Linked DNA regions of Homo sapiens. The protein of the gene in region 1 purifies or fractionates together with the protein of each later gene. This does not show direct contact. Each region holds a gene or a part of one and is shown in the gene's direction. Other genes may lie near its edges.

Evidence for each region. Proteins that work in one complex are often made in the same cells at the same time.
Region 2: the proteins of OR10S1 (region 1) and SLC44A5 purify together in Homo sapiens (affinity purification with mass spectrometry; one large-scale study listed by BioGRID and IntAct). This does not show direct contact.

What each region holds. Positions count from the first base shown.
Region 1 is NC_000011.10:123,975,168-123,979,973, reverse strand, and holds OR10S1 (olfactory receptor 10S1), read left to right. Parts: upstream 1-2,192; 5' UTR 2,193-2,309; coding exon 2,310-3,278; 3' UTR 3,279-3,313; downstream 3,314-4,806. UniProt on the Homo sapiens protein: Odorant receptor.
Region 2 is NC_000001.11:75,216,115-75,219,614, reverse strand, and holds part of SLC44A5 (choline transporter-like protein 5), read left to right. Parts: intron 1-270; coding exon 271-358; intron 359-862; coding exon 863-1,125; intron 1,126-1,654; coding exon 1,655-1,749; intron 1,750-3,500.

The sequences.
Region 1 (4,806 bases):
CACAACCCAGAGTGAGAACTTCATTGACGCCTTTTGGCCAATTGGATGACGCTTTTTCCAGACCCACCTATAGCCACCCATGGACCAATCAGCATGCACTTCCTCCATTCTAAGCACATAAAAGCCTCAGATGCAGCCAAACTCACTCACTGGGGGGACCTGCCTGCAGAAAGGAGCTACTGACTTCAGGTCTCCTGAGAGCTGTTTTCTTGCTTAATAAAGCTCCTCTGCACCTTGCTCACCCTCTAGTTGTCCTCTAGTATCCTCATTCTTCCTGGACGCAGGATGAGAACTTGGGACCCACCGAACAGGGGGAGCTAAAGGTGCTGTAACATGTTCCTGGCTCATTTGCCAAGCTGTGGGTGGTGACATGCTCCCGGACTATGGGAGTAAAAAGTGGTGACCCTCCTGGTGGCCCAGACCTCGGGACTCCCCAAGCCAGAGCTGCTGTAACACTATAGCCCTCCCACCCTCTGCCAGTGCTGGGTGGCCACCCAATGGGACAGGAAGCAGAGGTGGGCCAGGCCAGCCCAGGAGCTGCAGGTCAGAGTGGGGTGGTGGGACTGAAAGGGCTGTAACACAAACAGACTGAAACACAAACCCCCAAACTCACCCCCTCATTGGCTGCATTGTGGGTGACGAGAAGGAAAGAAGAGCTTCTTGGAGCCCAGACCTCAGGACTCCCTGAGCCAGGGCTGTGACAGGCTGTAATACCCTCTTTGGGCTCTGCAGTTCCTGGCATCTCTGAGCTTTTGGGTGCCCCCATATTCCCCTCGTCCAGATGCTGGTGCCCATAATGGAAACCACTTGCAGTATGCCTGGTCCAGCTATAGCCTCACATGAAGCTGGTGCCTCTGCTGGCACCTGGAGCTGCCCATCCCACCACAGCAGCAAGTGTGCCTGGCTGTGTGCAGTGGCCAGACCCCTGTGCTTGCTCACTCACACACCTCTCGCCTCTCCCACCCTTGGCAAGCATGGAATCCAGGCTGGTAGCACGAGCCAAGTGCAGCCTGCCAGGCCAAGTGGGTGAAAAGAACCCAGCAGCCATGAGCAAACTCAAGCAGAGGAACCACCAGCCACAGAGGTTTCTGTCTGGAAAAGTGACATCCTAAGGATCCTGTGACAAGATCAGAGAGAGATTATGGCAAATTGAGGAGATGAGGCAAATAGCATCCCTGGATAACAGGAGTTTCTTAGGGGATTGCAGAAGATAAAGATTTTTTTCATGATAATGGAAATAGTTTACAGATAATTCTGAATGTAGGACAGAGATACACTTTATATCTCAGGCACTAAGGAACAGTAAGAAAAGATATATTCGAATTTTTTTAAGAAAACTGGCACAAAAAAGTTGAATACTGAATCATTTGGTATATCAGGGAGTAAGGAAGAGATGGGACATAAAATACCATTGTGAAAATCTAGGTGTAAAATATGAAGAGGTGGGTTTAGGTAAAATCCACAGGAATTGAAGAGACAACACGGAAAAAAAGCAGTTTAAGGAAATTTTTCACCTAATGCAACATCTGTTAGGCTAACGAGGTGAAAGATGGAAGAATCAAAGAGAACTCTTTAAATCTCAATTACAGTCCAGTGGAAAGGCTCAACAAGAAAGGAAAAGGCAAACAATTCCCCAAATTTTGAAACAGAGCTTTACAGGAAGAACACAAAGTGTATAGAAAAAATTGTCCTGATAATTATTCAGTCTATTCTCCAAGCCTCAATTGTTACACACTTGAGGATTGTGGGTAACTGAAATTCCAAAGAACTCCTCTGGTTGAGTAATGGGTGGGGCTGCTGTGTTTCTGGCTGATGTAATAGCACCAAAACTCCAGGCAAGTCTCACCTGAAAATAGGATGCATCTCCCTGATGACACAGCAATAAGAACCTGCCTTTCTACATCTACAGCATGGCAGGGTACATAGAGTAGGAGGGCAGAGGCATCACAATTCTGGAATATTTGCAAAAAATACTCATTGAGAGTAGGATTTATAATCCATATTTTTATTGTCATTATTTAGGGAGTGCATTTCTGCAAATAATTCTTACAGTCCTTTATATACCTCACCAAAACTGCAGATTTTGTATTGAAAGATTCATTATGAAGAAATAAACAGCAAGGAAGCACTAGACTAGAGCAGAACAAAACTGTAAGATGAACTTGTACATCTTTCTCTTGCTTACTGGGTAAGACCAAGGTGGTGTGGCTTGATGGATAATGACATCTCAGGAAAGGGATACAGCTATTTATTCCATTAATGTCAGTTTTGTTGCAAAGGGGATGACTAGCCGCTCTGTGTGTGAGAAGATGACCATGACAACGGAGAACCCCAACCAGACTGTGGTGAGCCACTTCTTCCTGGAGGGTTTGAGGTACACCGCTAAACATTCTAGCCTCTTCTTCCTCCTCTTCCTCCTCATCTACAGCATCACTGTGGCTGGGAATCTCCTCATCCTCCTAACTGTGGGCTCTGACTCTCACCTCAGCTTACCCATGTACCACTTCCTGGGGCACCTCTCCTTCCTGGATGCCTGTTTGTCTACAGTGACAGTGCCCAAGGTCATGGCAGGCCTGCTGACTCTGGATGGGAAGGTGATCTCCTTTGAGGGCTGTGCCGTACAGCTTTATTGCTTCCACTTTCTGGCCAGCACTGAGTGCTTCCTGTACACAGTCATGGCCTATGACCGCTATCTGGCTATCTGTCAACCCCTGCACTACCCAGTGGCCATGAACAGAAGGATGTGTGCAGAAATGGCTGGAATCACCTGGGCCATAGGTGCCACGCACGCTGCAATCCACACCTCCCTCACCTTCCGCCTGCTCTACTGTGGGCCTTGCCACATTGCCTACTTCTTCTGCGACATACCCCCTGTCCTAAAGCTCGCCTGTACAGACACCACCATTAATGAGCTAGTCATGCTTGCCAGCATTGGCATCGTGGCTGCAGGCTGCCTCATCCTCATCGTTATTTCCTACATCTTCATCGTGGCAGCTGTGTTGCGCATCCGCACAGCCCAGGGCCGGCAGCGGGCCTTCTCCCCCTGCACTGCCCAGCTCACTGGGGTGCTCCTGTACTACGTGCCACCTGTCTGTATCTACCTGCAGCCTCGCTCCAGTGAGGCAGGAGCTGGGGCCCCTGCTGTCTTCTACACAATCGTAACTCCAATGCTCAACCCATTCATTTACACTTTGCGGAACAAGGAGGTGAAGCATGCTCTGCAAAGGCTTTTGTGCAGCAGCTTCCGAGAGTCTACAGCAGGCAGCCCACCCCCATAGTCTGTGCTATCAAAACTCACAATTTGCCTGCCAGGAAAGCAACTATTCACATCTCAAATCATTCAGGTGGAAATCAGAATAACTGAGTTGCAACTCAGTCACACACTTTCCCCCAGCTTTGGCCAAATGGTCTACCTCACTCTCTCCCTTGCAAACACTTCATCTAGAAAATGAGGAGGCTGGATTAGATGATGTCTAGAGTCTCTCCAAAATCTATGTTCTATGGTTCAGAGGTATGTGAAATGCTATTCGTATCCTCATTTGTATTAGTAAATGATTGTTTTACTTTTTATGAAATAACTTTATTAAATACATACAGAATACTGTAAACAAAAATATAAAAGGCAATGAAAAAACCTTTGTATACATATTTCCCAGCTTAGAAACCACATTTTTTAAAATGATAAAATACAAGGAGAAAAGTGATTGTCCAAGGTGACTTAGAAAGTCACATTTTCTTTATTCTCCCACTCATGGTAGTATATACTTTAGGCCACATTGAGAGATAGAAATAACATGGGTTTTGGTGTCAATTGAACCTACCAGTATTCTAATACTGATCCAACCAGGTCTAGTTGTAGAATTTTGTACAGATGTCATAATTGCAGTTTTAGTCTCCACTTTTAAGAGTAAGATTTAAAATAATTGCTTTGTAGGATATTATGAGGTCTAAATAAAATAGTTATATTAAGTGTCATGTAAAATAGGCGCTCATGTTTCTTACCAAGCTGGTTGAAGAAATCAAAGAGAGCTTATGATACAAGCTAAGGTTCAAATTGTTTCTGAAAGATTAGCAAGGTTTTAATATCTTCATTGAGTTTATAGGGCAACTACAAAAGAAAGGGCATTTCTAGACTTCAAAATTATAAAAGATAACTCAAGGTTTTAGTTAAACCAGCTTACCATACAAGAGGAAGGAGTTGTGTTGTATTCACCTAACCTATTCTATAAGATGAAAATGTCCTTGAATGCCAACCTAAAGAATTCAGATTATGCCCTAGGCATCCTACCTGTTTACTTTTCCTCCTCCTTGTCATCTATAGAAATACCTTTATCCTGAGAAGCCACTTCTTTAAATGCTAAACCATGAGATAAATTAGAAAAGAGAGACAAAAAAAGGAGAAATGGTAGAATGGCCAGTTAATAAACTATTATAACATCAGAGACATAAGATAATAAAAGTATTGCTAAACCTAGATGAAGAGACACTTTATAGAATTAGATCAGAAGTGTTTTGAAGAGAAAAAATTATAAGACTATTAGAATGGGAATCATAATTATAATCATTTTTGACATATGTATGTACAAGGCACTGTACTAGTTGCTTGGTCTGCATTAATCCTCCTAAGAAATATATTTTGCAGCAATATTTTTATTGTTATTAATGATATACAGATAAAGTAAGATAAAATAACTTTTACCAGGCCATGCCAACCATAATAGTTAAAGCCAGGATTTCAACTCAAATCTGTATGTCTTCAAAGACTACACATTTCAATTAGACAATAGTACTTTAGAGATAATCAAA
Region 2 (3,500 bases), on another chromosome or scaffold:
GTAGATTTGTTTTATTTTGTCTCCACATGATACTGCTCCTTAGCAATAAGCCAAGAAAGCTCCTATACATTTTACTGTTTTTAAGGGGCCACTCAGTGCAGCTGGCCCACATTACATTAATCTAGGCCTGAAAAATAGATGAATATTATTAAAATATTAGGCATTTTTTAAGTTAATTTCTCATGCACTTTTGAGTTGTCAGTATTGTTTTCTTGTCCATTTATTTTCAATCTACCAGCAAATGGTTTATCCTTAATGGAGTTTATTCAGTTTCTTGGCGACATCGGGGGTACCTGTATACAAAGTCATAGCTCCAGGGGGGCATTGTATACATGAAAATCAAACCTGTGACCCAGAGGTAAGTACAAGAAACTCTTTCATTTACTTACTTCAATATAGACTTCTGCTGCAATTCATTTTGTAGTTGTGGTAGGAATTGTCCCGAAGCAGAGATCCTATACACTGATGGGGACAACTATGTGCTGAAGTGGGGAGTGTGCATCAGGTAAGCAGGAGAGTATGGAAAACAGTGGGTGGAATGGAGAGAAAGCACTGTATTTCCTGAGCTTGCCTGCCCTACCATATACCCAAGACCATAGAAAGTAGGTATGGTCAACAACAACACTGATAAATGTGAAATTATAGTGGGTGCAGATTATGAGCATTTGATGAAAAATGGGATACTTTCCAGCACTCATTAGATAATTATATAAAGTGATATAACAGAAAATAGAGGAGTAAGAGCAGGAGCTAACAGAGAAACAACAGGATATGCAATTAAGGGGAAGAGGAAAACACAGGGAGTTGTTATCTTGGAGTGATATTTAATATTATGTCCTTGTGTTCCTTTTTCTCAATGCAGATTTTTAATACAACTGAAATTGCCAAAGCTTGCCCTGGGGCTCTGTGTAACTTTGCTTTCTATGGTGGAAAGAGCTTGTACCATCAGTACATCCCTACCTTCCATGTATACAACTTATTTGTCTTTCTCTGGCTTATAAACTTCGTCATTGCATTAGGTCAGTGCGCCCTTGCTGGTGCATTCGCTACTTATTACTGGGCCATGAAAAAACCTGATGACATCCCACGATATCCACTTTTTACTGCATTTGGACGAGCCATACGGTAAGTTTCAAGTTGAAGCCTACACCTATCTTGTCAGTTACATTTAGTGTGCTTGTAATTCAGTCTTGGCTCATTAATTCAAGTGGCAAGGTACAAATGAAATCAAAGGTATGAATCAAAATTCATGGATGCCCATTGGTTTTGTCTGGTTTCATAGCCAGTTTTACAATCCCTACCCAAGCCAATTTCCTTCTAAATGCTATAGGTTACTAGAGAGAGAAAAAGATAGAGGAGGATACCAAATGAAAGATCAAGGATTAACTTGGCTCTGTGTCTCCATTGAGCAGTAAAAACATCCTATTTTATGATGATAGACTATTGGTGTCATTTATGCTGATAAAGGGTAAGACAGATGTATATGGTTTAAAATCCTCTATAGAGACTTTTATCAATCTAAATAAGAGAGTGCAAAAGTCTCTTTGCTGTTAATCCTTCTGCAGATACCTTTTACTTGTGAAAATTATTCAATTAGCATCCCCTTAAATAATAGTATTAAGTTTTAACTTATTCTCATTTTATTTTTGTGCAGATATCACACAGGATCCCTAGCATTTGGATCTTTAATTATTGCATTAATTCAAATGTTTAAAATTGTACTAGAATACTTGGACCACCGTCTTAAACGTAAGATTTCAGATGTCCTGACTTTTGTGAAGATAATAAATTGGGTTGGGGGTTGGGGGAGACCTGATGATTATAACTTGGACTAGGGTAGTAAGGATGAAAGGGCATATTTGGGACCCGTTCTGTTCTGAAGGAAAACCAGAGAGAGCTTGCTGAAGGAGTTGATGTCAGGGGAGGGGAGGGACAGTGGTGAATAAAAGAGAGAAAAGGTGTGTGATCCTATTTGTTAAGCTGTGGAAGCCAGAAGAAACAAATTTCAAAAAGGAGATTAAGAATTCTGTTTTGAGATGTTATTGTTGAGAAGCATGATGGAGATGTCAGGTTGGCAGTTCCAAGTATATAGTTCAGGTCAGGTTAGGCTTAAAATATAAATGTGGGTGTCACGGGCATAAATCTTCATACCTGATATATATTGTTTACAAACACATAAACTTTGCTTGGAATGTACCTTAAAATATTTTATTACTAATATTGGAAAAAGACTTGAAAAGGAACAAAAAAGCTGGAAGACTCATACTTCCTGATTTCAAAACTTATCATAAATCTACAGCAATCAAAAGAGTGTGGTACTAGCATAAGGACAGACATATAGAGGTAAAATAAAACAGAAATCCCAGAAACTAACTCTCACATATAAGACCATTCAATGGGAAAAGATCAGTCTTTTCAACTAATGGTGCTGGGAAAATGGGATATCCACATGCAAAAGAATGAAGTTCAACCTTATCTTACATTAACATACAAAAATTAACTAAAAATGGATCAAAGACCTAAACAAAAGCACAAAAACTATAAAACTCTTAGAAGAAAACATAAGATGAAAGCTTCATGACATTGGATTTGGTGATTATTTCTTAGATAGTACACCCAAAGCATAGGCAACAAAAGAAAAATAAATTGAACTTCATCAAATTTAAAAACATTTATTCAACAAAGAACACTACCAAGAGAGTGAAAAGACAGCCCACATGATGGAAGAAAATATTTCCAAATCATATGCCAGATAAGGAATTCATATCCAGAACATAAAAGAACTTCTACAACTCAACAGCAAAATAATAAGCAACCCAGTTCAAAAATGGACAAAGAACTTGAATAGATATTTCTCCAAAAATGATATACAAATGGCCAATGAGGACATGAAAAGATGCTTAATATCACTAGTCATTAGGGAAATGCAAGTCAAAACCACAATGAGACTCCATACACATTAGAATGGCTATTATATATATATAAAAACAAAGAAAAAAGCAGAAAATAACAAGTGTTGGTAAGAATGTGGAGAAATTGGAACCCTGTGTATTGCTGGAGGGAATGTCAAATGATGTAGTCACTGTAGAAAACAGTATGGCAGCTTCTAAAAAATTTTTAAATATAATTTTATATGACCCAGAAATCCTATATCTAGATATACATGAAAAGAATTGAAAGAAGGAACTCAAACAGATACTTGCACATCACTGTTCATAACAGCATTATTCAGAATAGCCAGAAGGTATAAACAACCCAAATTCCAATTAACAAATGAATAAACAAAATGTGTTATGTACACACAATCAAATATTATTCAACCTTAAAAAGGAATGAAATGATGACCCTTGACGACATCATGCTAAGTGAAATAAGCAAGATACAAAAGGGTAAATATTGTATGATTCCTCCTATTTGAAGCACCTAGGAGAAGCAAATTTATACAGACAAAAAATATAATGGAGTTTACTAAGAGCTGGGGGAATAGGGGAATGAGCAGT